Homo sapiens: one gene and its partners. The protein of the gene in region 4 interacts with the protein of the main gene of each other region in a pairwise test. Each region holds a gene or a part of one and is shown on either strand. Other genes may lie near its edges. The genes, in order: MORN4, DSCAML1, ACVR2A and MAGI2.

What was found.
Region 1: the proteins of MAGI2 (region 4) and MORN4 interact in binary tests that used the Homo sapiens proteins (3 or more experiments, as listed by UniProt).
Region 2: the proteins of MAGI2 (region 4) and DSCAML1 interact in a two-hybrid assay, tested with the Homo sapiens proteins (one study listed by BioGRID and IntAct).
Region 3: the proteins of MAGI2 (region 4) and ACVR2A interact in a two-hybrid assay, tested with the Homo sapiens proteins (one study listed by BioGRID).

What each region holds. Positions count from the first base shown.
Region 1 is NC_000010.11:97,616,501-97,625,470, reverse strand, and holds part of MORN4 (MORN repeat-containing protein 4), read left to right. Parts: intron 1-5,787; 5' UTR 5,788-5,817; coding exon 5,818-5,884; intron 5,885-8,148; coding exon 8,149-8,263; intron 8,264-8,683; coding exon 8,684-8,793; intron 8,794-8,970. UniProt on the Homo sapiens protein: Plays a role in promoting axonal degeneration following neuronal injury by toxic insult or trauma.
Region 2 is NC_000011.10:117,426,670-117,431,584, reverse strand, and holds the end of DSCAML1 (cell adhesion molecule DSCAML1 isoform 1 precursor), read left to right. Parts: coding exon 1-51; intron 52-551; coding exon 552-863; intron 864-2,781; coding exon 2,782-3,257; 3' UTR 3,258-3,813; downstream 3,814-4,915. UniProt on the Homo sapiens protein: Cell adhesion molecule that plays a role in neuronal self-avoidance. Promotes repulsion between specific neuronal processes of either the same cell or the same subtype of cells.
Region 3 is NC_000002.12:147,924,251-147,932,514, forward strand, and holds the end of ACVR2A (activin receptor type-2A isoform 1 precursor), read left to right. Parts: intron 1-1,780; coding exon 1,781-1,911; intron 1,912-2,829; coding exon 2,830-3,024; 3' UTR 3,025-6,572; downstream 6,573-8,264. UniProt on the Homo sapiens protein: On ligand binding, forms a receptor complex consisting of two type II and two type I transmembrane serine/threonine kinases.
Region 4 is NC_000007.14:79,442,620-79,451,589, forward strand, and holds part of MAGI2 (membrane-associated guanylate kinase, WW and PDZ domain-containing protein 2), read right to left. Parts: intron 1-8,970. UniProt on the Homo sapiens protein: Seems to act as a scaffold molecule at synaptic junctions by assembling neurotransmitter receptors and cell adhesion proteins. Plays a role in nerve growth factor (NGF)-induced recruitment of RAPGEF2 to late endosomes and neurite outgrowth.

The DNA of each region.
Region 1 (8,970 bases), on a different chromosome or scaffold from region 4:
GTGTCATTTTCTTTCTTTTATTTTTCTTTTCTGTCACCCACTGACTCTCAGATATTTAATTTAATCCACCTGCCAACTATGTGAAATACATATCTTATCTCCACTTTACAGATGAGGAGACTGAGATTTAGAGATACTTAAATACCTTGCCCATAATTATACAGTGAACTCATATTTGAACTCAAGTCCTCCTGTGCTCAGAGTCTACAACACCACCATATTATCCTGGGAGGCCAGATAGGATAGTATGGTATAAGTTAGCAAGTTACTGTAAGAACTTGTGCCAGCAAGGCCAGCTGTCAGAGCTCTGATTCTAACTTTCACGTGTTAGTTTCCACATGTATGACCTTAGTTAATTTACTTATCCTCTCTGCACCTTAGTTTCCTCATCCCTAAAGTGGAAATAATAATAATACCCACCCCAAAAAGTTGTTGTGAGATGAAATTAGATAATATATTTTAAAAACACTGATGCTCATGCCGTGTGCGGTGACTCACGCCTGTATTCTTAGCACTTTGGGAGGCCGCGGCAGGTGGATCACCTGAGGTCAGGATCACCTGAGGTCACCTGACCAACATGGTGAAACCCCATCTCTACTGAAAATACAAAATTAGCCAGGCGTGGTGGCGCATGCCTGTAATCCCAGCTACTTGGGAGGCTGAGGCGGAGGTTGGAGTGAGCAAAGATCGCGCCATTGCACTCCAGCCTGGGGAAGAATAACAGTGAAACTCCGTCTCAAAAACAAAACAAAACAAAAAACACTGATGCTCACACCAGTAATCCCAGCTACTTGGGAAGCTGATGAGGAAGAATCACTTGAGGCCAGGAGTTCGGGACCAGTCTAGGCACCATAGCGATACCCATCTCAACAAAAAATTTGAAAAGTAGCTGGGTGTGTTGGCACACACCTCTAGTCCCAGCTACTGGAGAGGATGAAGCGGGAGGATCACTTTAGCCCAGAAGTTTGAGACTGCAGTGAGCTCTAATCACAATCACACTACTGCATTCCAGGCTGGGTAACTGAGTGAGACCCCATCTCTTAAAACAAAACAAATAAACAACACTGATGGAACACAGTAAGAGGTCAGTAAATGTTAGCTTCTGTTATAAAGGTATTTCAGACAGCTTCTCTGGGGTTAGTGCAATTGATTATTAGAGAGGGTTGTGCCACCTGAATTGAAATATAAATAATCTAGCACTGTCCACCATGACAATGTGGAGAAAGCAAATTTAACATATGGGTTGTTTTAGTTGAACATTTAAAGCATCACTTTTGCATAAAATATACCAGACCCCTTTTGTGCTATGAAACTATGGAACCCACTCTTTGGAACTCCATCTTGACTGGATGAGGTTTTGGCTTCCCTGGGACTTGAAGGAAAAGGAAGCTAGCTGTTGGCGCCAGGCCCCCGAGATTTAAGAATCCCATCTTGCGGCCAGGCACGGTGGCTCATGCCTGTAATCCCAGCACTTTGGGAGGCCAAGGCGGGCGGATCACGAGGTCAGGAGATTGAGACCATCCTGGCTAACACGGTGAAACTCCATCTCTACTAAAAAATACAAAAAGTTAGTGGGGCGTCGTGGTGGGCACCTGTAGTCCCAGCTACTCGGGAGGCTGAGGCAGGAGAATGGCATGAACCCGGGAGGCAGAGCTTGCAGTCAGCCGAGATCATGCCACTGCACTCCAGCCTGGGCAACAGAGTGAGACTCTGTCTCAAAAAAAGAAAAAAAAAAAAAAAGAATCCCGTCTTGTTTTGAGCTGGGAGCAGTGGCATGCACCTGTAGTTCCAGCTACTCAGAAGTCTAAGAGGGGATTGGAGGATCTCTTGAACCTAGGAGTTCAAGTCCAGCCTGGGTAACATAATGAGACCCTGTCTCTAAAAGAAAAAAGAATTCTTTCCTGTTTCTCCACCAGGTCTGGCCCCAGTACTCTGAGGAGAATGTGTCCTTGTCCTGTTGGAACTCAGTCAGATGCCTGAGGGTCAGACTCTAGGTTACTTATTAATCAGAGGGGACTTTTTTTTTGGAGGGGGACAGGGTCTCGCTCTGTCACCCAGGCTGTAGTGGCACTGTCATGACTTACTGCAGCCTCAGACTCCTGGGCTCAAGCAATTGTCCCTGCTCAGCCTCCCAAAGTGCTGGAATTACAGGCATGAGCCACCATGCTTGGTTGATAGAGGACTTTTCAATAGTGATTTATAGTTCAGAGAACTTTTCACACACAGTATTTCCATTTATTGTAGCAGTAGGCCACAAGCTTTGAAGTAAGGATCTAATGATGTGCTTATTAAAACTGCAGGTTCCCAGGCTCTGACTACAGAATCTGATTCAGTAAGTCTGAGTTTGGGCCTAGGAATCTGCATTGTCAAAATTACTGGAGAAAACATTGTATTGCTTAGATCTGGAAAAGATGAGGAGGTAGCTAGATGTGGTAGTGTGCGCCTGTAGTCCCAGCTACTCAGGAGACTGAGGTGACGGGATGCCTTGAATCCAGGAGTTTGAGGTTACAGTGAGCTATGATCGTGCCACCGTGCTCTAGCCTGGGTGACAGAGCAAGACCCTGTCTCTAAAAAATAAATAAATAAATAAATAAATAAATAAATAAATAAATGAAAGATGAAGGGATGAATGAAGAGACCTAGGGAATTAAAAAAGAAATAGGGCTTGTATTTTTTAGTCTATCAAATGACGTACTATTTGCCTCTGTTTATATTTAATGATTTTGGGGGGTATCTTAATTCCCTCTTCTTCTTCTTCCGTTTTTTTTTTTTTTTTTGAGACAGGGTCTCCCTCTGTCGCCCAGGCTGGAGTGTCGTGGCGTGATCTTGGCTCACTGCACTTCTGCCTCCTGGGTTCAAGCGATCCTTCCACCTCAGCCTCCCAAGTAGCTGGGACTACAGGAACGCACCACCACACCCGGCTAATTTTTGGATTTTTTGTAATTTTGGTACAGATGGGGTTTCACCATATTGCCCAGGCTGGTCTCAAACTCCTGAGCTCAAGTGGTCCGCAAGCCTCAGCCTCCCAAAGTGCTGGGATTGTAGGTTTGAGCCACCGTGCAGTTCCCTTCTTATAGAATATCCTTCAATACATCCTTTCACCACTAATGTGAAGCCATATCTAGCCAGTCCCCAAATGTTACTGATTGTTTTCCTATGATGTATCCCCCCAGTTGTTCCTTCTGCTCCCATTATACTGTGATCTCCCAGACTCATGCCTGAACGTATCAGTTAGCTTTTTCTGGGTAATAACACACCACCAGAAAACACAGTGGCTTGAAACAATAACCATTTATTTATCCTGTGAGTCTGTGGTCGCTAGTTTGGGGCCGGGCTCAGAAGGGCAGTTCTTCTAGTCTTGCCTGAGCAATTTGTTCATCTGTGGCCAGCTGGGACAGGGTCTCACCATCCAGTAGACTAGATTGGACTCATTTACATGGGGGCAGAACAGGTCCAAGTGTAGCAAGAGGGCAAGCCCAGTGCACAGGTGCTTTGCAGACCTCTGCTAGATCACCTTTGCGAACATTCCATTATCTAGAACAAGTCACACAGCCAACCCAGGTCCAGCAGGTGGAGGAATAAATAAACTCTGCCTCTTTTTTTTTTTAGACAGAGCCTCACTCTGTCGCCCAGGCTGGAATGCAGTGGTGCGATCTTGGCTTACTGCAACCTCTGCCTCCCGAGTTCAAGCAGTTCTTCTGCATCAGTCTCCCGAGTAGCTGGGATTACAGGCACCCGCCACCACGCCCTGCTAATGTTTTGTATCTTTAGTAGAGACAGGATTTCTCCATGCTGGCCATTCTGGTTCAGGTGATCCACCCACTCCGCCTCCCAGAGTGCTGGGATTACAGGCGTGAGCCACCGCACCCGGCCAACTCTGCCTCTTAATGGGAGGATCTGCCTTGTCACATTGTAGGGTCATGAACGGAGGGAGAATAACTCTGCCCATTTTTACAATTTGCTTCATTATCATATTTCCCTTCCTTGCAAGCTTTTCTGACTATGGACTTGCTGCTCCAATTCATCCCACTTCGTGCTACCACATTCATTTTCCTTACACACTGCCTTCATATTACATCCTGGTTCACAAACCCGCAGAGGTCGCCTCTTTTCCTCCCTCATATGCTGTAAACTCTTATGCCCAGCTTTCAAAGGTCTCTTTAAGTTAGCCTGAGCTAAAAGCAGAGGCTGTGCTGTACAGGAAAAAAGGACTAGCATAGTCAGGGGAGGCTGTCAACAAACTTTATTACCTCTCTGGGCTTCTATTTCTCCTATAAAATGAGAGGTTGGGCTAAATCCATGAGATTCTTTTCAGATTTATTTATTTATTTATTTATTTATTTATTTCTCGAGACAGAGTCTTGCTCTGTCACCCAGGCTGGAGTGCAGTGGTGTGATCTCAGCTCACTGCAACCTCTGCCTCCTGGGTTCAAGCAATTCTCCTGCCTCAGCCTCCTGAGTAGCTGGGATTACAGGTGCCCGCCACCACACCCGGCTAATTTTTGTATTTTTAGTAGAGATGGGGTTTTACCATGTTGGCCAAGCTGGTCTCGAACTCCTGACCTCGTGATCCGCCCACCTCGGCCTCACAAAGTTCTGGGATTACAGGCATGAGCTACCACGCCCGGCCTATTTTTTGTTTTTTAATTTTACATTTTTGACATGAGGTCTTGCTATGTTGCCCAGGCTGGTCTTGAACTCCTGGGCTCAAGTGATCCTCCCACCTCGGCCTCCCAAAGTGCTGGGATTACAGGTGTGAGTCACTGCACCAGGCCTCTCTTCAAATTTAAGATTGTGGCTACATGTACCTACACAGGCTTATTTCCTAATACTCCCCAAATAAACCCTCAACTGTAATGAGACCAGGCTTCTTATTTTGCCATGGAACATCTCGTGTTCACATTGCCCTTAGAGTGTTCCTTGCCCTTTGAGTGTTGGTTCCCCATATTTTCTTTTTTTTTTCTTTTTTTTTTTTTTTTTTTGAGACAGAGTCTTGCTCCGTCACCCAGGCTGGAGTAACAGTGGTGTGATCTCAGCTCACTACAACCTCCGCCTCCCGGGTTTAAGTGATTCTCCCGCCTCAGCCTCCCAAGTAGCTAGGATTACAGGCTCCTGCCACCACGCCCAGCTAATTTTTGTATTTTTAGTAGAGACGGGGTCTCACCATGTTGGCCAGGCTGGTCTCAAACAACTGACCTCAGGTCATCCCACCCACCTCGGCCTCCCAAAGTGTTGGGATTACAGGCGTGAGCCACTGCCCCTGGCCTGTTCCCTATGTTTTCTGATTCTGGAATTGCTCTTTGCCTTCTCCACTGCTTGTCTGCTTGTTTTAAATTCTGGCCATCTCATGTCTTTGTTAATCTCTGCCATCCAAGTTGGCACTTAATCACATTATCTCTGGCATAATTCAGTGTTTAAATTGTTAGTCTTATTAACTAGATTATAAACTCGTCAAGGGAAGATACTGTATTTTATACATCGACTGAGCACATAGTAGGTATCAAATAAATATTTGTAGATTAATATTTGTAGATTTCCATCCCAGGTCATAGAAAATAGGAACTGGCTGAAAACTTTTAAGATAAGCAGGAGGATAAGAGCACTTGGGCAGAGGTGGAGATGATGGTGCTGGTGGTGGTTGGAGATAGGGGTATTTTGGTTAAATGCACCTAAGGCAGTGTACACTTACCAGGCTGGTGGCCTTTAGAATGTATCTATAAAATTGCCTTGCAGTCCTTTCCTCCCGCCATTCCATGACACTGGTTCTCCTTTGCTTATTTCCTACAGTTTCATCCTTTTATCCTGTAATCTGTCACCATGACCCTGACAAAAGGTTCCTTCACCTACTCCAGTGGGGAGGAATATCGTGGCGAGTGGAAGGAGGGTGAGAAGGACCCCTGGGGAGTATCCATGATGAACACTTCATTTGCTGGAGGACAAATACATCAGGATATATAGCCAACTTTATGGATCTTCATTTTCAACTCCAGGATTTAATTCCATATAGTGCCTGCCATTCCTTTATTCCATTTTAGGATTAAATAAAGGAATTTGAAAATGCTATTGTTAATTCAACCTCCAGGAATGAGTTATATCTTTCTTTTTTTTGCTTCTGTTTTTGTTTTGTTTTGTTTTGTTTTTTGAGATGAGGTCTCGCTCACTATGTTGCCTAGGCTGGAGTGCAGTGGTGCAATCTCAGCTCACTGCAACCTCTGCCCCCTGGGTTCAAGCGATTCTCGTGCCTCAGCCTCCCAAGTAGCTGGGATTACAGGCGCCTGCCACCACATCTGGCTAATTTTTGTATTTTTAGTAGAGACGGGGTTTCACCATGTTGGCCAGGCTGGTCTCGAACTCCTGACCTCAGGTGATCTGCCCACCTCGGCCTCCCCAAGTGCTGGGATTACAGGCATCAGCCACCATGCCCGGCCCATGCCAGCCTCTCTTCTAAGCATTTTGTATTTATCATCTTATTTAATCCTCATGACAACCTTATGAGGTAGGCACATACTATTATTATTCCCATTTAACAGATGGGGAAATTGAGGCAAGGAGAAGCTAAGTAACTTACTCAAGATCACAGAACTCTAAGTGGTAGAACAAGAAGGCAAACACAGCAGGCAGCCTGACTCGGTGTCCTCAAAATCTAACTACATTGCCTCTCTGAGGAAAAAAAAAAAAAAAAACAACCAGTATCCATTTAGCACCTTAAAGCTACTGGGCAAATCTAACAGCCTGATTAGCAGCACTGGTTTCAGCTTCATTATAACAACAGGGCTGTGCTTACTCTCTGAACTGACCAGAAAACAGAGCAAGATGTTGCAGGAGTAATCATGCCTTTCAAACAGAATTCAAGGGAGTTCTTGTGGTGGATACAGCCCACCCAGCAGAGCCTCAGGAAGTCTCTCCTCTAACAGTCCGCATTAAAGGGGACACCAGGTATTTGAAAGCCAGGAAGAAATGCCTGGGATTGGAGGAGCCAAGGTCACATCACACCTGTACAATTTCTCTCAAGGCTCAAGAATTTAGGGCAGGCACAGTGGCTCATGCCTGTAATCCCAACACTTTGTAATCCCAGCTACTGGGGAGGCTGAGGGAGGAGAATCATTTAAAACCAGGAGGCGGAGGTTACAGTGAGCCAAGATCGCACCACTGTGCTCCAGCCTGGGCGACAGAGTGAGACTCTGTCTCAAAAAAAAAAAAAAAAAAAAAAAAGAAGAGAGGCTGGCACATAGTAAAGGCACTATAAATACACATGTTAGCAATTGTTATTTATTTATTTATTTATTTATTTTGAGATGGAGTTTTGCTCTTGTTGCCCGAGCTGGAGTGCAATGGCATGATCTCGGCCCACTGCAACCTCCACCTCCCAGGTTCAAGCGATTCTCCTGCCTCAGCCTCCTGAGTAGCTGGGTTACAGGAGCGCGCCACCACCATGCCCGGCTAATTTTTTGTAGTTTTAGTAGAAACGGGGTTTCACCATGTTAGCCAGGCTGATCTTGAACTCTTGACCTCAGGTGATCTGCCCGCCTCCTCGGCCTCCCAAAGTGCTGGGATTACAGGCGTGAGTCACTGCGCCCAGCCAGTTGTTTTTTTGTTTGTTTGTTTGTTTTTTGAGACGGAGTCTCACTCTGTCGACAGGCTGGAGTGCAGTGGCGCGATCTCAGCTCACTGAAACCTCTGCCTCCCGGGTTCAAGTGATTCTCCTGCCTCAGCCTCCCGAGTAGCTGGGACCACAGGCAGGCGCCACTACACCCAGCTAATTTTTGTATTTTTAGTAGAGATGGGGTTTCACCATGTTGGCCAGGCTGGTCTCGATCTCTTGACCTCGTGATCCACCCTCAGCCTCCCAAAATGCTGGGATTACAGGTGTAAGCTACCGCGCCTGGTCAGCTGTTGTTATTTTTAAGTGCTCTCTTATTCATACTTGGGTAGACCTGCTTTAATCTGTAGTGATAAGATGGGAAGGCCCCAGGAGCCAGGTTTTCCCAGTGCCTGACTCTGGCTAATAATCCTCTGCCCTGCTAATGTCACTGCTTCTCTTGTTTTCTTTGTGGGTAGGGTGATGGCAGGTAAGGGATGCTACAAGAGTAAGAAGGGACCCTGAAGCTGCCTCCTTCCAACCTGACACCTATCCTTCTCTTTGTTCAGGCCGCAGGCATGGTTTTGGTCAACTGATGTTTGCAGATGGTGGCACCTACCTGGGTCATTTTGAGAATGGGCTCTTTAATGGCTTTGGGGTATTGACCTTCTCAGATGGTTCAAGGTGGGTATGAGGTCATTCCTTTCTTAGCCTTAAATAAGGGAGGGTCTGACAGAAAAATGGGACTCTGGTAAATATCTGGTCAATCCTGACCTTGTCTCACTCCCTGCAGAACACAGATGAGTAATAAGTAGTTCTTTTATTAGCTATTTTTTAAGTGGACCTAAAATTTGAAATGTCAACCAAGTGAGTGACTTTCCACCCCACTCCCATTCACATCCTATCTTCTTTCCTTGAGATCAGGGCTTCATGTCATATATACTCTCTGCTCCTTGGGAATAGGTGGGGTAGGTGGAGCTATGTGACTGGTAGAATCGGCTTGCTCCTTAGCATCATTAAATAACAGAGATCAGCAGCTGCTCGACTCCGTTCATCTGGACAGCTAACTTTCCACTGAAGGCTAACTTCTTGGTGTTTCTGCAGGTATGAGGGGGAGTTTGCCCAGGGCAAGTTTAATGGCGTCGGAGTCTTCATTCGATATGACAACATGACCTTTGAGGGGGAATTTAAAAATGGCAGAGTAGATGGTTTTGGTAAGTTGCAGCCCAGCAGGATGGCTGACTTAGGTGGGCATAATATGGGTGGAAATATACCTGTTTAGTTTTAATCCTGCGGGTGTCCAGCAATCCATAGTGGCCGTCCCTGACACCTATCCATTGAACTCATCAATAGAGTACTCCTGAGTAGAGCTGGGAGTTTTTCTCTTCTTT
Region 2 (4,915 bases), on a different chromosome or scaffold from region 4:
TCACGGTCACTGAGAGTGACAGCTACAGTGCCAGCCTGTCCCAGGACACAGGTGTGCCTAAGGCCCTGCTGGCATCCTGAACACCTCCCCCCAGTTCCCCATCATTCACCTTCACCTTCTATTCTTCCCAGCTTCTACCCACCAGCTCATGGGGCCCAAGGCACAAGTCAGTTTCATGTCTAGCTGGTCACTGACCCACTGTGCAGCTGGGACAAAAACACTTGACCTCACTGAGCTCTACTTAGTCAGGGAGTTAATTTTGCTTTCCCAAAAACTGTCAGAGAAAATGGTACACATGATGTTCATTGGAGAAAGGGCTGAATGTTCCAGGGGATGGTTGCTTATTTTCAAGAATGAAAGGTGTTCTGCCCTTCATGAGCCAAAGATCCTACTTCTGCCACCACTGCCACCTTCACGGGATCTTCTCAGCCTGGTGCCCTCCATGGCCAGACTTACAGATGGCTGCTGGGGTTACGGGCAGGGGAAGTGCTCAGTCAGTCTCACTTATACCCTCCTCCCCGTAACCCACCCCTTTCCTCTTAACTCCCCAGACAAAGGAAGGAACAGCATGGTGTCCACTGAGAGTGCCTCTTCCACCTACGAGGAGCTGGCCCGGGCCTATGAGCATGCCAAGCTGGAGGAGCAGCTGCAGCACGCCAAGTTTGAGATCACCGAGTGCTTCATCTCTGACAGTTCCTCTGACCAGATGACCACAGGCACCAACGAGAACGCCGACAGCATGACATCCATGAGCACACCCTCAGAGCCTGGCATCTGCCGCTTTACCGCCTCACCACCCAAGCCCCAGGATGCGGACCGGGGCAAAAACGTGGCTGTGCCCATCCCTCACCGGGCCAACAAGAGTGAGTGCTCAGACCACCTCCCAGGCAGTGCCCCCCCGCCCCCTGGCCCCAGCCCCATGAGCCCTGGCTAGATCTAGTTCTGCCAGCACCAGGATCATGCCAGCCCAGCTTGGCTCCTTGGCAGTGCAGGGTGGTACCAACAGCAAGGACTTAGGAGCAGGCAGATCAGGGCCCACATCCTGGCTTAACCTCTTCCTATGTCTGTGGCCTTGGGCAAGTCATTTAACCTCTGTGGCCTTAAGTTTCTCATTTGTAAAATGCCAACGATAGTATCTACTTTGCATTGTCATAATGGGCATTAGAAATGATATACATCCCCAGCGTGTTGTAAGGCCTCATTCATTCGGTAGTGAGCATCCCCTTAATCTGAAGCTGTGCCAGGATGGAAACAGATCCCTTCAGGGTCAGCTGCCCAAGGGCCTCTGGTCTCAATGCTGTTTGAATTTAATCCAGACCCAAACAAACAATCCTGGCAGCTCCACCCACCATGGTCATACCTCTCAGTAGGCAGTGACCTGGCCTGGCTGGGAACCATCTGACCCCACGGGCCTGGCCGGAGCATATGCCCTTAGAGGCTGGCAGGGCAGGGCTAGGATCAGCAGGGGGAGTCTATCAGCAGATGCTGGGGTCACAGCGTGCAAAGCCCAGACTATCAAACAATGCAGTCTGGTCTGCTTAGCACTGGCCATGCTAATTGAGGCAGGGGGCGGGGCTTTCTGGGTCATGGAAAGAAGAGCCTGGAACAATGGAAAGACTGTGGAGACTGTGACCCTGAATGACACCCCCACCCCTTTTAGCTGTGCAAATTTAGGCAAATGATTTAATCTCTCTGAACCTCAGTTTCCTCACTTGTAAAGTGCAGACAGGTATTAACCAATCCTAGGGGCTGTCGTGAGGATTCAATAAGAAAATCTAAGGAAAATGCCTGGCCCAGCTCCCCGGGGGAAGAGGCCCATTTGCAGGCAGGGTGCCCATGGAGCACGGGGGGTCAGGCGGTGGAGGTCTTAGAAGCAAGTCACATGGAGGCAGTTTAAGAAATAAGGAACTAGGTTGGGTGCGGCGGCTCATGCCTGTAATCCCAGCACTTTGGGAGGCCAAGGCAGGCGGATCACCTGAGATCAGGAGTTCCAGAGCAGCCTGGCCAACATGGCAAAACCCCATCTCTACTAAAAAAATACAGAAATTAGCTGGGCATGGTGGCACGTGCCTGTAATCCCAGCTACTCGGGAAGCGGAGGTTGCAGTGAGCCGAGATCATGCCACTGCACTCCAGCCTGGATGACAGAGCGAGACTCCGTCTCAAAAAAAAAGAAATTAGGAACTTTCCACCTGGAGAAGAGGGGACCGAGGGGGAGGAGAGGGGACATGTAGCTGACTTCAAACATCTGGAAGGCTGCCATGGGAAAGAGGGGAACGCCTTACTCTGTGAGACCTCAGAGAACAGAACCAGGCTCCATGGTGGGGAGGCGACAGGGAATGATATTCCTTTCCTCCTCAGGGTAAAGAAAAGCTTTCCACCAGCCAGAGCCATTAGGACATCCTCGTCCTTAGCAGTAGTGAGCTCTCCACTACCGGAAGCTGACCAGCCTCTAGTGACCATTGAACAACAAGCATCCATGTACTGGGCAGCTGTTATCTGCACCAGCCACTGTAGCAAAGCACTTTACCTCCCTCACCTCATTCGCTCCTCACAATAATCCTGTGGGGAAGTAAGATCATCCCCACTTCACAGATAAGGAAACGAAGGCTCAGAAGGGCCAAGTACCCGACCTTTCCGCTACTCTTTATTGCCCCCCAGTGGAGGGGCCCCTATGCCAAATCAGAGAGAAGACTGGGGGCAGGGGATGGGGTGGGGGCTGAACGAGCTGCTTCCAGAGGGCTATGACTCTCTGTAACATCCTCTGCCTCTGTGATTCCAGGTGACTACTGCAACCTGCCCCTGTATGCCAAGTCAGAGGCCTTCTTTCGAAAGGCAGATGGACGTGAGCCCTGCCCCGTGGTCCCACCCCGTGAGGCCTCCATCCGGAACCTGGCTCGAACCTACCACACCCAGGCTCGCCACCTGACCCTGGACCCTGCCAGCAAGTCCTTGGGCCTTCCCCACCCAGGGGCCCCCGCTGCCGCCTCCACAGCCACCTTACCTCAGAGGACTCTGGCCATGCCAGCCCCCCCAGCCGGCACAGCCCCCCCAGCCCCCGGCCCCACCCCTGCTGAGCCACCCACCGCCCCCAGCGCTGCCCCTCCGGCCCCCAGCACCGAGCCTCCACGAGCCGGGGGCCCACACACCAAAATGGGGGGCTCCAGGGACTCGCTTCTCGAGATGAGCACATCGGGGGTAGGGAGGTCTCAGAAGCAGGGGGCCGGGGCCTACTCCAAATCCTACACCCTGGTGTAGGGCCCGCAGGAAGAGCAGCCACGCCTGGACCGCGCCGCGCCGCAGCCCCACACGCCAGCTCGGCTGTTTTTCTGCATTATTTATATTCAACTGACAGACAAAAACCAACCAACGACAAAACAAAAACCCCCAATCATGAACGCCTGTACATAGAACTCTTTTGTACAAATGAAACTATTTTCTTCTTCTCCATGAAGCCAGGGCACAAAGAATTTGACAGTACAAGTCAAATCCCCCACCCCACAAAATATGTGTGGAGATATATATACATATATAGACAGACAGGAACGCGTCCACGAGCTATATATCTATATATTTCTCTCACCCTATTTTGAGACAGAGGCACAAAGACTCAGCAATTTTTTTCCCTCCTCCTCACCTTCCCCCCAGTCTAGGTGGTTTTGACAAAGACCAAAATCCCAACTCAGAGACACTGCATGCGATTTTACTGTTCCAAGAAAACCAGGAGTTGCTTCAATTTGCAGATGCTTATGTGTTAATACCTTTTTCTATGAAAAAAGACCCAGCGCCGTGTGCAATAAAGGTTATGTTTCTATGTGGTGGCTTTTTTCCCATCTGGCGAAGGCCAGCGGGGAGGGAGGAGAGAGCCCGACCCCAGGCCGTCTGTCTCTCATAAAGAGACTTTGTGAGAAGCCTGGGCTTTGGCTCAGTGCTCTAAGACTTTTAAAGGCTTGCAATTAGCCAAGGTGCCTCCTCTTCTGTTCTCAGAGCTGTGCTGGGCCCGCAAGGGGAACTAGGTCGGTGGCTTCGTGCAAACTCCTAAACCCCTCTGACCCACAGTGTCCTTACCTGTAAACGGAGGGAAGCTTGTAGCAGATGGAATGAGGCAACCTTGGCTCACCAAGCGCTGGGGAGCCTGGGATAGGGGAGGGGTTGCCTACTGGCTTCTTTCCTCCAAGAGAGTGCAGGGTAGCCAGGGGGCCAGGACTATACAAGACCAATAGCCCACAGTTGTGAAAGAGGTGCCTATCGGGAGCGGGGAAGAAGAGATTATCTATAGCTGGGGCACCAGGCCAAGGCCTAAAGTTCTGGGCTGACTCTTAGGACCAGATGAGGCCAGAGGGAGAAGAAGAGAAGTCGTCGGAGGTGAGAGGAGTGAGAGAAGCTCATGAAGGAGAGGGAATGGAGCTCAGCCAAAGAGAACCAGGTCAGCACATCAGGTACCTCACCTGGCTTCCAAGGAGTCAGCCAAGTGGAAGAAAAGGCGTCCACACGGAGGAGCAGGCAAGGTGCCGTGGGTGTCCAGAGGCCTGGTTTCTGATGAGAGGGTCCAGAGGGCATCACAGGAGGTGACAGGTGAGATGGACCTCCAGGGACTTGAAGGTTTGGAGAGGCAGAAGCAGGTGACTGGCCCCTGGGTGAAAAGGAAGTGCACCTAAGAAGTGCACAGGGGGCTCTTGAGCACTGCAATTGAGGCTGAGCTGTGGATCAGGAACCTGGAAGGAAGGTGAGTCTGGGACCCACCGCTCCCTAGGAGCTGAGAGGAGGAACTGGGAAGGGCTGGAGAAGGAGGGAGGAGTTTGTGCATGCAGGCAGCTGATACCTATCAGCCTGGGCCCCGGTGAGGCCGCACCTGGGATGCATGACCTTTCATAGAAGCATCTTCCGAATAGCAACTCATCCCACAAATTCTCTCT
Region 3 (8,264 bases), on a different chromosome or scaffold from region 4:
TATTAATATGAACTCTCCATAACAAATCATTGGATTAAGTAATTTAGGAGACACAAGACCTTATTCTCAAGTAATATACAGTTTAGTTAGGGCAATAAAATATATCCTGGACAATTAACTCTAGAGTAAGTTAAGTGTGAGTTGTCTGGCCCATTCCCCAGTACATAGGTATTCAATAAATGTTTCTGGGTTAGTGCAATACTTAAGAAATACAAGCATGTGTTTTAGGAGTTTAGGGGAGAAATTGCTTTGTTTATGGGGAAGAGAGGTTTCAGAGAAGTTCTTTTGGAAAAAGAAAAGGCTAGATACTGACTTTTCTTAAATGCCATGAAATAATTTCAGAGTCAGGCATTTCTGACTCTTAAGTCAGAACCCAATTGTTAAGTCAGAAATTGGGGTAGAGAGGATAGTGTGAGCATTGATTGCTAAAGTAGGTGCTTTCACGTGTGTTGATGGTTACTTGTTTGTTAAATGAAGTAATTCTCAAACTTTAATGTGTCATACCAGATTCTTAGGAATCTTGTTAAAATTTAGATTCTGACTCAGTAGGTCTGGGTTGAAGCCTGAGAGTCTACATTTCTTAAAAGCTAAGCTACCAGTTGACGGCAGTGTTGCTGGCCTGTACACCACATAAGTGTTGAATAGACACCTTAGAATGTCGGTACTTTGTCACTGGAAGTACTCAAGCAGAGACCAACTGTCCAGCCATAGATAATTCTTATATTTGAAGAGGGTTAAGTTAGATGACCCCTTTATGATTCATTGTATTCTACCCAGGAGTATTTAGTGCATTTCAAGAGCTTCACAAAATTTGTGTTTATGCACACATACATCTATCTGGTCACTGATACTGCTCAGTGGTGACCTGTGTCTGTCAAAGGAAGGCAATCCAGTGATTAAAACCAGACTTCAGAGTTATTTAGAGAGTTGGGTTCAATTCCAGCTCTACCGTTTAACAGCTGTATGTCTTTGTGCAAATTATGTAACTTTTCTGAGCTTCTTATCAGTAAATAGAGGTACTGCCATCTTAACCCTGTGAAGTAAGTAATATATGTAAAGTTTCTGATCAGGATAGGTGCTTACTGGATGTTAGTTATTATTAACTCCTAAATACAATTTTCTATTTATCTGAGTAGGCCTAAGAAAAAAGGAATTATTTATGTTGTTTAATGTTGTCTATGAAGGCACATCCTGACTTGTTGGGACCCCTAGTTGGAGAGCCTGTTTGTGATTTTCTAAAAAATAAACATGTACTTTTTGGCAGCTGTTGTGAGGGAGTGTAGAGAAGAGGTATGACTCTGAGGTGCATAATTCCTCATGTGGGGCATGCAGGGGGTTTGGATATGCCATAGAATAAACATGGTTATAATAGATTGAACCTAGAGCCTCCAGAGCTGGAAGCACCACTGTTAACATTCTGATCTGAATTGTAAGGAATGGGTACCTTAAAGGGATATTATATAACGTTAATTTACAAATACTGATTGTTCCTTATGTCCTCTGTGCAGATGGAAATAGGCATCCTTTATACCTAGATAAGAAAGCCCCTTATGCAATCTTTAAGGGAATTACATGCCAAATTATAGGCCTTTTCATTTCCCATACATTAGTTTGGTCACACTGTGGTATAAGTACAGTTGAGAGTCTGTTTCTCTTCTGTCCTCATAGCATGTAAACAGTTGGGAATAGGTGACAGAGTATATTTTAGAAAGTTTGTACCAGTTTGAAAGTCAGGAGGATTTTAATGAAAATGATTTATTTTACTTTTCTTACTTTTCAGGACCTGTAGATGAATACATGTTGCCATTTGAGGAGGAAATTGGCCAGCATCCATCTCTTGAAGACATGCAGGAAGTTGTTGTGCATAAAAAAAAGAGGCCTGTTTTAAGAGATTATTGGCAGAAACATGCTGTAAGTTATCCAGTTAGCTTTTCATTTGAAATTCCAATAAAACACTTTTCAGAGGAATTATTTATCTCTGCACATTTCTCTTTCTTCTGCAAGTATTTTCTGGAAGGTGATCTTCACACAGGATATTCTAGAGTTCTAGAGGCAGAATTAGGGCTATGTCTGTATACCCCTGAAGGTGATTGTAAAGTAATAGAGCTTTAGAGGGCTTTTGTCTCAATGGTCCTGTGCAGAAGATTGTGTCATCTATTTAGAAAGTTTCCCAGGGAAAAGGCATGCCAGACTCGGAAACTGTGGATAGTTGGGTAACTTTGCTGATGACCACTTCCAATATGACAACATTTTAAAAAGTTTATGAAGCACCATGTTTTCTCCTCTCCATGGGAGTTTGTTGTAGCCTTTTAATTTCGGCTTAGACTTTCAAGTCTTAATAGTGCTTTAAAACTATAGAGACCAGGCACATAACAGTATTGCCCTGGTTATTTCAGTCTAAATATAACTAGAAACCTGGCTAAAACCAGGTAGAGAAATCCCAAGGGTGGCTTTCTGATCTTCTGTTTAATTGTAAGATAGAAATGCTGATATTAACTAAGAAAACAATAAAAATTGGTAGGTCCCCTTTATCCTTGATTTTTGAGTCCATTTGAAGGGTTAGCATTGAAATGACCTGGGTTATGAACAAGGGATAGAGATTTTTTTTTTGGAGTTAAAAAAATTCCTCTTGTGATAGTCTCATGCTTAAAAAAAAAGTTCTGTTTGTGCTTTTCTTTATGATTCTGCACATGGTAGTCAATAAAAGTGAATGTTGACAGAAACTTCTTTGACCCAGAAAAATAGCCATTTCTTCATGAAAATTTTATTGTTTCCTAATAGAAAACAAAAACTGCTGTGGCGTTTGAGTATATGTTTTTCTCCTTTTAGGGAATGGCAATGCTCTGTGAAACCATTGAAGAATGTTGGGATCACGACGCAGAAGCCAGGTTATCAGCTGGATGTGTAGGTGAAAGAATTACCCAGATGCAGAGACTAACAAATATTATTACCACAGAGGACATTGTAACAGTGGTCACAATGGTGACAAATGTTGACTTTCCTCCCAAAGAATCTAGTCTATGATGGTTGCGCCATCTGTGCACACTAAGAAATGGGACTCTGAACTGGAGCTGCTAAGCTAAAGAAACTGCTTACAGTTTATTTTCTGTGTAAAATGAGTAGGATGTCTCTTGGAAATGTTAAGAAAGAAGACCCTTTGTTGAAAAATGTTGCTCTGGGAGACTTACTGCATTGCCGACAGCACAGATGTGAAGGACATGAGACTAAGAGAAACCTTGCAAACTCTATAAAGAAACTTTTGAAAAAGTGTACATGAAGAATGTAGCCCTCTCCAAATCAAGGATCTTTTGGACCTGGCTAATGGAGTGTTTGAAAACTGACATCAGATTTCTTAATGTCTGTCAGAAGACACTAATTCCTTAAATGAACTACTGCTATTTTTTTTAAATCAAAAACTTTTCATTTCAGATTTTAAAAAGGGTAACTTGTTTTTATTGCATTTGCTGTTGTTTCTATAAATGACTATTGTAATGCCAATATGACACAGCTTGTGAATGTTTAGTGTGCTGCTGTTCTGTGTACATAAAGTCATCAAAGTGGGGTACAGTAAAGAGGCTTCCAAGCATTACTTTAACCTCCCTCAACAAGGTATACCTCAGTTCCACGGTTGCTAAATTATAAAATTGAAAACACTAACAAAATTTGAATAATAAATCGATCCATGTTTTGTAACAAATTCACTGTGTTATTTAAGGAAAAAAAGGTAAGCTATGCTTAGTGCCAACAATAAGTGGCCATTCGTAAAGCAGTGTTTTAGCATTTCTTGTGCTGGCTTGTAATGTAGGGAAAAAAAGTGCTGTTTTTTGAAAAGATGGTGTCATTTCCCCCTTCTTCCCATGTTTTAAAGCCCCATCTTATATCCAGTTCCCAAAATTTGCATACTTACCTAAGTATTTTTTTTAGGTGTGCTGTGTTTGGGGAATATTTGAAAATTTAAAGCATGATTTAAAATTTTTTAAAGTGAGCTGTGACACTGGAAAGCTCTTCATTTTATCTTTTAAAATAGAGTTTTTTCTATTTATATATGTAAAATTGTAGTGTATTTCTTTTCACCAAACAGTGTGTGGGACATTCTTTATCACTGTTTTAGGATCACCTCAGGAAGTGTCGTTACCCAGAATTCCCCACTGTCTGCTATGAGACTTGTAACTTTATCACTATACTTCTGCTTGGTGCCATCTTGTCAGAGTAATATTTGATGTCTGTGATATGTAAAGAATTATCCTAGGATAAAGATATTAAACTTTAAGCAGATTTCAGATGTTACTGCTTTAAAACAAATCAGGGATAACAAATTAAACGTATAACTTAAAATATGCAATGACATTTAGAGGTAACCAATGTTGATATAGGTAGCATAGCCTAGCCTCCTCCCCAAAATTGCTTTTACAACTAACACTGATACTAATTTAGGATAGTTCATGCCTTATCCTTGCTAAGAAAATGGAATTGATGGTAGGCAGGTGCTAAAGTGCTTTTCAAAACAATATTACGTTAGAATACAATTGGATTCTTCCTCAAATTTATACAGGCCAAAAAGTAAAACATTAATTTTCTGAATTTCCAGATTACCAATCAATTAATCAACAAATAGCCAGTATTATGCTGTGTATTTCTGTCAGGTCATTTTAAAATCCATGTTAATTTTATAAAAGAATTTTTTACATGTCACTGTCAGGAGCTCACTGTGAATGTGTTGTCTTCAAATGGTTATTTAACCACACAGTACACTACATTTTACATATATGTACGTAATCTCTGGGAATAGTAAATTAATTATGTTATTTATAAACAATACATAGGTCAACAGACTTTAAGCAGGGAGGAAAAGAAGAGTAATAGCGTCTGTGTGCTGCAGACCATTCAGAACTGTCACGTGTGTCCCCATGGTCTCATTCATTGTATTCCTAGCAATTCCCTTTTCAATGTTGAGTTCACCTCTTTATTTCACAAAGTACTTGGTCTCTCAATTTCTTGATCTGGTTTTGCTTCCATTTAAAAACTAATCAAGAAGGGAAAATATTGAGAATGTGCATACAAGAAAATCATTAATTTCCTGAAGATGAATTTCTACCTGTTGTGAACATTTAACTTTCTTTTTAAAAGTTAAACAAAAATAAACAAGGGATATTATGATGAATGTTTGGCTTATGTGAGTACTAGAGATAAAATTTTTAAACCCAGTTATTCACAATATAAAATGTTTTCAAGTTAGAAAAAATTTTTAGAAATCCTGGGTATTGTATTTAACTGTAGCTAACCAATTTTAAAACTTGTATTCTTTTGAGAACTATTATTAATAGAAAAACTTTTTATAAGCAGTAAAATAAGAATGTTCCAGTGACTACCTGTCCTTATACCTAGTCTTGTTAAAACTTTCTTTTGCAGGGTATTTAGTGTTTGGTTTACAGTCAGTGCAGAGTGGGCAAGTTAACAGAAAGTTTGAGCTAGAGATACTGGAAAAAAAAAAGATCAAAGAATGAGAAAAATGGTGATCCATTTTGGGGCAAACTGAGACCCCCCAAATAACTCTTTCCTCATGTGTATGGTGCTCCTCATGACTCGTCTTGTATTTTGCCTTTCTGATACCCATCAGAACTGCTGCTGCTCTAACTTATACTCTTTACCTTGCCCAGATCTCCGCGTAAGGAATGCTTTATGATCAACTTGCCATAGGACTGATGGATTAACCAGTGTTCGGCTTTATTTGAAGTCTATGCCCTGCACAGCTCTTGTATGTATTTTAGATGCTAGAAGTTTTTTTAGCATGTGATGTGTGATTCTTGTTTGAATTCTAGGTACCTTGTGAATTCCAGAAAAAGAGACTGTGCTTCACGATTGTTAGTCCCATGAACTTGCACTATCTATCTTTCATGGTGATGTTTTGAAAATACAATCAGGAAAAAACCCAACACCTTTGGAATTTAAAATAGAATCATATCATGAAATTTAAAAAGAATCTCTTCTGTTGCATTTCCTCACCCCTAAGTAACAGCTACATTTAAGTAAAATGCAGGTGGTAGGGGAAAAAAAACCATGGCGAGATGGTGGTTTAGTGGAATAAACTGATTACTGGTTTTTTTGTTTTTTTTTTTTTTTTTAAAGAAAGAAGCTTCATCACAGATACTTTCCAGTTTCTCTTTTATACTTTTTTGAAAGATTACTTTTTAGGAACATTTGGTATGATATGCATAAAATTATTTATCCATTTATGGGCAAAATGATACAAGTAGCATCTTGATTGAACATCATTTACCTCAGATATTCAACCAGCAGTACGTTTTTTATGCAGTCTCAACCCATATCCCATTTGTTACCTCTCAGAATATTGGTAAGCAGTTATTTTCGCTTTACTCTGTATTTCTTGTGTTTTGGGCACAGGTTATTGTACTACTGTCAAATCGTACTTGCTATTTTTTCTGCAAGTATTTAACAGAAAGCTTAAAATCCCCATAAAACCCCACCTTGGATAAGTGATTGTTAAATATTGTACAAATAAAATGTATGCTATCCCCATTCCATCCCCAAGTTAAATAAAAAAATGAATACGGTATGATTTGCATATGCAGTTTTTCTTTAGCTATGTTTTTTTTTTTTTTTATACTTTAAGTTTTAGGGTACATGTGCACATTGTGCAGGTTAGTTACATAGGTATACATGTGCCATGCTGGTGCGCTGCACCCACTAACTCGTCATCTAGCATTAGGTATATCTCCTAATGCTATCCCTCCCCCATCCCCCCACCCCACAACAGTCCCCAGAGTGTGATATTCCCCTTCCTGTGTCCATGTGATCTCATTGTTCAATTCCCACCTATGAGTGAGAATATGCGGTGTTTGGTTTTTTGTTCTTGTGATAGTTTACTGAGAATGATGATTTCCAATTTCATCCATGTCCCTACAAAGGACATGAACTCATCATTTTTTATGGCTGCATAGTATTCCATGGTGTATATGTGCCACGTTTTCTTAATCCAGTCTATCATTGTTGGACATTTGGGTTGGTTCCAAGTCTTTGCTATTGTGAATAATGCCACAATAAACATACGTGTGCATGTGTCTTTATAGCAGCATGATTTATAGTCCTTTGGGTATATACCCAGTAATGGGATGGCTGGGTCAAATGGTGTTTCCAGTTCTAGATCCCTGAGGAATCGCCACACTGACTTCCACAATGGTTGAACTAGTTTACAGTCCCACCAACAGTGTGAAAGTGTTCCTATTTCTCCACATCCTCTCCAGCACCTGTTGTTTCCTGACTTTTTAATGATTGCCATTCTAACTGGATAAAATACTGGCAAAACGAATCCAGCAGCACATCAAAAAGCTTATCCACCATGATCAAGTGGGCTTCATCCCTGGGATGCAAGGCTGGTTCAATATACGCAAATCAATGAATGTAATCCAGCATATAAACAGAGCCAAAGACAAAAAACACATGATTATCTCAATAGATGCAGAAAAAGCCTTTGACAAAATTCAACAACCCTTCATGCTAAAAACTCTCAATAAATTAGGGATTGATGGGGTGTATTTCAAAATAATAAGAGCTATCTATGACAAACCCACAGCCAATATCATACTGAATGGGCAAAAACTGGAAGCATTCCCTTTGAAAACTGGCACAAGACAGGGATGCCCTCTCTCACCACTCGTATTCAACATAGTGTTGGAAGTTCTGGCCAGGGCAATTAGGCAGGAGAAGGAAATAAAGGGTATTCAATTAGGAAAAGAGGAAGTCAAATTGTCCGTTTGCAGACGACATGATTGTATATCTAGAAAACCCCATCGTCTCAGCCCAAAATCTCCTTAAGCTGATAAGCAACTTCAGCAAAGTCTCAGGATACAAAATCAATGTACAAAAATCACAAGCATTCTTATACACCAACAACAGACAAACAGAGAGCCAAATCATGAGTGAACTCCCATTCACAATTGCTTCAAAGAGAATAAAATACCTAGGAATCCAACTTACAAGGGATGTGAAGGACCTCTTCAAGGAGAACTACAAGCTACTGCTCAAGGAAATAAAAGAGGATACAAACAAATGGAAGAACATTCCATGCTCTTGGGTAGGAAGAATCAATATTGTGAAAATGGCCATACTGCCCAAGGTAATTTACAGATTCAATGCCATCCCCATCAAGCTACCAATGACTTTCTTCACAGAATTGGAAAAAACTACTTAAGTTCATATGGAACCAAAAAAGAGCCCACATCGCCAAGGCAATCCTAAGCTATGTG
Region 4 (8,970 bases):
AAGAAACACTAAGAAAGAGGACTTGAGTATTTTAACTGCTAGTAGGTAATAGGATCTTTGATAAAGCTCTTGCTCTTCCAGAAGAGGTAATCAATTTTCTTCTGCTCATTCAGCCTTCACTCTTCACACACACAAAATGTCTACTCCCTAAGTATATGACTTGCTAGAATGGTAAGATTACCGTTATCTATGTTCAGGGTGTTTTTAGAAATTAGCCAAGACTTTTGGAACATTTTAGTGACCCTCCAAGCCTAAATACTTGCTATGTTTTGAAGAAACTTTGTCTAGCAAAGAGTTTAACATCCTTACATCATAGACTGTGAAAAAAAAAAAGGAAATTAGGTATTGCAGATCAGAATGCAGATCAGAAGGCTGGGCATGGTGACTCACGCCTGTAATCCCAGCACTTTGGGAGGCAGAGGTGGGCAGATCACTTGAGGTCAGGAGTTCAAGACCAGCCTGGCCAACATGGTAAAACCCCATCTCTAGTAAAAATACAAAAATTAGCCGGGTGTGATGGTGGGTGCCTGTAGACCCAGCTACTTGGGATGCTGAGGCAGAAGAATCACTTGAACCCAGGAGTCGGAGGTCTCTGTGAGCAGAGATGATGCCACTATACTCCAGCCTGAACCTTAGTGTTTGAAGTGTGTGTGTGTGTGTGTGTGCGTGTGTGTGTGTGTGTGTGTGTGTGTGTGTGTATTCCATGTACCTAAAGATGCAGAACAAATTTGTTGTTCACTGGGGTGACTCCCACACTAGACTGAAGAAAAGCAAAGCGAGACTCCTTCTTAAAAAAACAAAACAAAACAAAAGAAAAACTTCACAAAAAGCAACATTGGACAATTCATATCTCTGAAACTTATTGGTGTTTACAAAATCCAGCTAATCAGATTTGACAAGTTTAGGGTATGTCACTAGATTAATCTGTGGGTTTCTATAGCACTTATTATCCTCCACATAGCAACACAAAATACTCATATAAGCAAAAATACTCACTTGTAAAATGCAAAATGTTAAAAATGTATGCAATTGTTTTTGTATTATTTTTACTCAGACATTCCCTGTGATCTATTAAGTGACAATGTAAAGTATAAACAGTTTTTGTGCTACACTTGATCCATGGCAATATAAATAATTCAATTTATGCTGGAATTGGGAAATTTACTTTTTAACAAACATCTTCAAACACAATGTAATATAAAAATAGATTTTTAAATATACATTTTGATTTTTAATTAAATAGTTTTGTTTCTTTCTGCTTCATTTCACAGAGTCACTTAATAAAATCCATGGTACTTACAGAAAAATTCCTGATGTCATATGCATGTGTTTCACTATAAGGCAGTTATGAGGTTGATAAAATTTCTTCTACAAATTTTTTCATTAGACATACGCAAATCAATAAACGTAATCCAGCATATAAACAGAACCAACAATAAAAACCATATGATTTTCTCAATAGATGCAGAAAAGGCCTTTGACAAAATTCAACAACGCTTCATGCTAAAAACTCTCAATAAATTAGGTATTGATGGGACGTATCTCAAAATAATAAGAGCTATCTATGACAAACCCACAGTCAATATCATACTGAATGGGCAAAAACTGGAAGCATTCCCTTTGAAAACTGGCTCAAGACAGGGATGCCCTCTCTCACCACTCCTATTCAACATAGTGTTGGAAGTTCTGGCCAGGGCAATCAGGCAGGAGAAGGAAATAAAGAGTATTCAATTAGGAAAAGAGGAAGTCAAATTGTCCCTGTTTGCAGATGACATGATTGTATATCAGAAAACCCCATCATCTCAGCCCAAAATCTCCTTAAGCTGATAAGCAACTTCAGCAAAGTCTCAGCATACAAAATCAATGTGCAAAAATCACAAGCATTCTTATACACCAATAACAGACAAACACAGAGTCAAATCATGAGTGAACTCCCATTCACAATTGCTTCAAAGAGAATAAAATACCTAGGAATCCACCTTACAAGGGACGTGAAGGACCTCTTTAAGGAGAACTACAAACCACTGCTCAATGAAATTAAAGAGGATACAAACAAATGGAAGAACATTCCATGCTCATGGGTAGGAAGAATCAATATTGTGAAAATGGCCATACTGCCCAAGGTAATTTATAGATTCAATGCTATCCCCACCAAGCTACCAATGACTTTCTTCACAGAATTGGAAAAAAACTACTTTAAAGTTCATATGGAACCAAAAAAGAGCCTGCATTGCCAAGTCAATCCTAAGCCAAAAGAACAAAGCTGGAGGCATCACGCTATCTGACTTCAAACTATATTACAAGGCTACAGTAACCAAAACAGCATGGTACTGGTACCAAAACAGAGATATAGACCAATGGAACAGAACAGAGCCCTCAGAAATAATGCCGCATATCTACAACTCTCTGATCTTTGACAAACCTGAGAAAAACAAGCAATGGGGAAAGGATTCCCTATTTAATAAATGGTGCTGGGAAAACTGGCTAGCCATATGTAGAAAGCTGAAACTGGATCTCTTCCTTATACCTTATATAAAAATTAATTCAAGATGGATTAAAGACTTAAATGTTAGACCTAAAACCATAAAAACCCTAGAAGAAAACCTAGGCAATACCATTCAGGACATAGGCAGGGGCAAGGACTTCATGTCTAAAACACCAAAAGCAATGGCAACAAAATCCAAAATTGACAAATGGGATCTAATTAAACTAAAGAGCTTCTGCACAGCAAAAGAAACTACCATCAGAGTGAATAGGCAACCTACAGAATGGGAGAAAATTTTTGCAGTCTATCCATCTGACAAAGGGCTAATATCCAGAATCTACAGTGAACTCAAACAAATTTACAAGAAAAAAACAAACAACCCCATTAAAAAGTGGGCAAAGGATATGAACAGACACTTCTCAAAAGATGACATTTATGAAACCAAAAGACACATGAAAAAATGCTCATCATCACTGGCCATCAGAGAAGTGCAAATCAAAACCACAATGAGATACCATCTCACACCAGTTAGAATGGCAACCATTAAAAAGTCAGGAAACAACAGGCGCTGGAGAGGATGTGGAGAAACAGGAACACTTTTACACTGTTGGTGGGACTGTAAACTAGTTCAACCATTGTGGAAGTCAGTGTGGCAATTCCTCAGGGATCTAGAACTAGAAATACCATTTGGCCCAGCCATCCAATTACTGGGTATATACCCAAAGGATTATAAGTCATGCTTCTATAAAGACACATGCCCACATATGTTTATTGTGGCACTATTCACAATAGCAAGGACTTGGAACCAAGCCAAATGTCCAACAATGATAGACTGGATTAAGAAAATGTGGCACATATACACCATGGAATACTATGCAGCCACAAAAAAGGATGAGTTCATGTCCTTTGTAGGGACATGGGTGAAGCTGGAAACCGTCATTCTCAGCAAATTATCACAAGGACAAAATACCAAACACCGCATGTTCTCACTCATAGGTGGGACCTGAACAATGAGAACACATGGACACAGGAAGGGGAACATCACACACCTGGGCCTGTTGTGCAGTGGGAGGAGGGGGGAGGGATAGCATTAGCAGATATACCTAATGTTAAATGACAAGTTAATGGGTGTAGCACACCAGCATAGCACATGTATACATATGTAACTAACCTGCACGTTGAGCACGTGTACCCCGAAATTTAAAGTACAATTAAAAAAAGAAGAAAATTCAACATAGACAAAATCTCTCTTTGCACTATAAAGGTTTATTTTTTTCTTCTGTAACATATCTGTGTTTGGGTATATCCAATGATATATCCAAAGTATAGCAAGTATTTAGGCTCAAACTGCCATGGTTTTGACAGTGATTTTTTTTTTAAAGTAAGCCAAAATAAATAAAAATGGCATAAAACCTCATAAGGATTCATGTAACGATTACATGGAGAAATTATTTCCCCAGGTAGAGCAAGCCATCTAATTATTTCAAATATTGAAACAAATCTAGCCATTCATATAAATCACCCACTCATTAGCCTAATGGATCTTTGAAAGTATATCAATGGGGGTTGGGCGCAGTGGCTCACACCTGTAATCCCAGCCCTTTGGGAGACCGAAGCAGGTGGATCACGAGGTCAGGAGATCAAGACCATCCTGGCTAACACGGTGAAACCCCATATCTACTAAAAATACAAAAACATTAACCGGGCGTGGATGGCGGGCACCTGTAGTCCCAGCTACTCAGGAGGCTGAGGCAGGAGAATGGCGTGAACCCGGGAGGCGGAGATTGCAGTGAGCTGAGATCACGCCACTGCACTCCAGCCTGGACGACAGAGCGAGACTCCGTCTCAAAAAAAAATAATAAATAAGTGAAAAAATAAAAGTACATCAATGGGATGCAATTGAGTTAATATTCAATAACTTATCAAAGAAGGAAACTTTTATTGTTTCTTCCAGACCACTCAAAACAGTCAACAATATATATTAAACTTAACACAAATTTTAACTTTTTTAAAAATATCTCAATATGAAGTCCTTTTAGAGTTGACAAAGATGTCAGTAAGACGTAATAATAAAAGCAATTTTTATTAATTATCTATGATGATATGGACATTGTACTATGTATGTCCCTATGCAAGTCTTTAACAATGTAAATTCAGCAATTATTATATTACTAAGTTTTCTATATAAGATAATTTACTTTTATTAAAGGAAATATAACAAATACTTACTAGAGACAGAAGAGAGCTGAGAATAGAATGGAGTAAGTAATAATAAAGTCACTAAACTAAGGCAGTTGTATGTTTGTTGTCATAATATATAGCCAGATTATAGCTAGGAGAGATTTTTAGAAATTAATACTGAACCCTGGAGCTTCAAGGTAGATGTTTCCATTGAACTGTAAAATAGGATTAATTCAACGAAAATGCTAAAATTATGGGGAAGCTAGCAGTGGAAGTATTGTTGGTTGCTTCACCTTGTAACAGTATTAATACACAGACTTACTTATATTGCATTTCTTTCATACAAAGTATGAAAATACTATAAAATAGTATTTTAATAGTACTATAGTACGTTAATAGTATTTAAATAGTATTTAAATTTAATGGTATTTTAACAGTACCATAAAATACTATAAAATAGTATAGTATAAAATACTATAAAATGCAATACAAATAGCCTTTTAACTTATTTACATTGCAATACTCACAAATGCAAAGTATTATTTTTGCTGAATTTGATGCATTTCCTCTTTATTATACATTGTTGACTGTGAACACTTAAGAGTTAACTTTTATTATTGTTATTCTTTATGAGGTGCTTAATTTCTAGCTGAGAAGTAAAAGTTCAACAGCATGATACTTACTCTTAACTACAATGATGTATTAATATAAGAAGTATAAACTCCTAAACTTAATAAATTCTAATAGGATTTCTATGTTGTCAAGTTTAGAGTAAATAATTCAATATATTCAGCAATTCTTTGGGAGTAAAGATATGCGGTATGAAGAAAACAAATTACTATGTAAAAATAAACTATGTCTAAAGTATAAAATAAATATAAAATAGCAGATGTTTACACATAAAGGGAGGATCAGTGGAAGTTATTTTTAAAAAGTGAAAATATTTTCCATTGTATTTATTGATATTATTCTTCAAATAAATTCTTTTCAAATAAAATATTTATTTCATTCTGCAAAAAAACCTTAAAATACAACTTGCAAAATACTCTATATTAATGTCAATCATTTCATATTTTTCAGTTAATTTGAATTGAGTAAAATATCTTGAAAATTAAAAACACCTCATAATGTCACTAGCTCAAAATGACCAATATGTTTGCAATAGCATTTACTAAAATCTACATAATGCTTATCACCTGCCAGACACTACACACTTTAAATACATAACTTATCTAATATTCTTAAGGTGCCATTACTACCCCAGGTTAGTTATCTTGTACATATAGCTAGCACTAACTGACATACTCAGGAATTAAAACTAGGTGGTCTACTTAGGAGACTGTACCTTTAACCATTGCTCTACCCCACCTTCTGAGGAAAATGATTCTGCCAGGGTCTGTATGTATTTGAAAGTCATTAATTAAACTATAATCAATCAGAGATGTCAAATGTGAATATGCTTTTCTCATTATGAAAGTGAATTTGTGAGTTACAAGCAATGAAAAGGAAAGTGAGCATAATAAACATGCCAAAAGATTAAACAGTGTAAATGTTAAGAATAGGGACAGTACAGATAAAAAGCAAATAATCATATTTAACATTCGAGGTCATACCATTTAAATTATCTACATGTACCAGAAAACTACAGTGGTATCACTTATAAATTATGCCCCAAGAGAACCGTCTCATTAACCTTGTTCAAAACATTAATGGTACTTTATTTCTAAAATAATAAACTGATCAAAATGTTTAAACAATGTTTTGTTTATTAAACAACACTATTCATATACCTCACATTTCTACAGAAAAAAAGTCAATCTTTATTTTCAGAAAATTTGACATAATTTGTTTTTACCTTTTCAGATACAAAGGAGTATAGAGATCTGACTCTATTATTCTAAGCCTGAAGTCAGTCAAGAAGAAAGTATGACTCTTAATAAATGTGGATCTACTTTCCTTTGAAGGTATCTTTGAAAGGAGCAGTAGGAGGGAGAGCAATGTAGATCTTCTCTAAAACTGAATTTCAAAGGATTTATTTGGCCCATCTTCCACATGGGAAGAATTAGAATTTTTTTTTTTTTTTGCCTTTTATTTCCCATTGTGAGACCCTAAATGGGAAAATAAGTCCAGGTTATGTAGGTCTCTATGTGGTATTAGATGCAATAGCAGCCATAGTGCAAGGAATGTAGGCCACAAAGGCCTGTGTAACTGGCTGCTGTGAACTTTAGTGGCAAACCTTAAAAAAGGGAAAAGAAAAAGGAAAGAAGACCTTTAGCACTTCCATATAGATCTCAACATCACTCAAAAAACTTTCTTCAACTGGGTCTGATGCATTAACGAGATCATAGAATTACTGCTAATTTAGAATTACATACTTTGGTGAGGAAAGTTTATTATTACAAATAAAATGCCATAGTTTATAAAAAAGAATTGGATGTGACAATAAGCCATATTTTAATATGTGGTTTATTATTGTGTGGATTAAAAGCAGAAAGCTTAAATTAAAAAGATAATTCCTTGAATTTCATTAAACAGTTTTAAAAATTGTTTTGCAGGTATTTAAACAGTGTAGAAACACTGTGAGATATATACATATATATATATATATATATAATGTCTTAAAATCCCAACATTTTAAAAGGAGCTCACCTCCTTTTAAAATTATGACAGATGAAAATTATGATAACTGTAATGTAAAATTAGGCAAACAAGTAAATAAAATTAAGTAAATAATGCAATTTTACCTGGTGCACTTATTAACAATATTCTTATTATTCAAATCTTACCTTTTCTTTATAAAATCTTCCTTAAACTATGATAATTCTTGTAGTTTCTGTATAATACCCAATGTCTGAATGAATATTCAAAAATCAGTCTCATTAATGTTTTAAAAACGCAACTGCTAAACAAACCATGTTTAAGTTTTTCAGCTATGCTAGCTTTTGCATCTCTTGAAACATAACTACTGGGCCAAGAGTTTCTAAATGATTTTCCAGTAAATGACATCTGTATTGAAACCTAAGACACACAGGCACTATAGTAAAGGTTCTGAAAAATTTCATTTTTTATAATCATAAATAAAATTAATCTATGATTTGACGAGGAAAAGAATTATTAGAATAGCAACATGAATCATATTTAAAAGAATATACAAGAGAATTAATTATTCCACAAAAGGTAAAAGAAATATTTTGTTTTGTTTTGTTTTTGGTCAGCAGTGGTTCAGGAGATGAACCAACTGTGGGCTCTCTGGCTATCATTATACAAATTTATCATCAATGAACCAGTGAAGCACGAAACTGAGGGTTAATATAGAATGAAAAGAGACTTTCCCCTCAATATATCACTTTAGAAGCATATATTCTGAGTTCTAAAAGCAATAATCTTCCACATAAAATTCAATACAAGAGTGATCTCCAACCACATTAGATCAAATTATGGCAAGATTCAAATAATATCTAATCCAGGTCCTCATCTTATATAGGAATCCCTGGCATATGGTCATTTCAGCCTCTTCATGGATACCCACAATGATGGGAACTTCAGCCAACAGGGTGCTCACAAATTTTTGGAAAACTCTGTTAGAAAGCTCATGATTTAATGAAAGTAAAGCTGCTTCATCCTTTCAAATTTCTCATAGATTTATCACCATTTTGTCCTGTGGGCTATCACAGGATAGTCAGAATTCCTTTTCTTACCTGATAGCTTTTCGCTATTTAATGATAGCTTTCATTCTTTCACTTCTCCACGTTAAGTCTTTCCACGGCATTTCATAGAATACATCTATAATACACAATAATCTTCCTTTATTTCTCTTTTGAACTTACTCTTTGCTAGCGTGACAGTTTGCCAACGTCCGCCTCAACAAGGAGTGCTCAGAATTGAACACAACATTTAAGATGTGATGATCATTGCAAACTATAATAGGGCATCCGTTTGTGGGACTCTATTAAGTCCAATTTAACAACGCTTAACTTTTGCAGCCACGTTCCATGACAAATATCAAGCATTTGGCCAACAAAACCATGGTCATTAGTTGTGTAGTAGACTTTTCGTACCCAAAGATCTTTCCATTTATGTCTATTCCTATAAGGTGGTATTTTGACATCGAACATGTTAACATGAATCTCTGTATTTGAACCTTAGGTATCTTATCTTCAAAAATATCAAGTTACTCTATTTTCCTTCCTACCAAACTCATATCCCTTCAGTGTTAAATAGTATGGAGCTATGTTGACTTATAATAACCTATCTCAATTTATTACCTCTTAATACTCAAGAATACCCAAGGAAAACATTTTCTT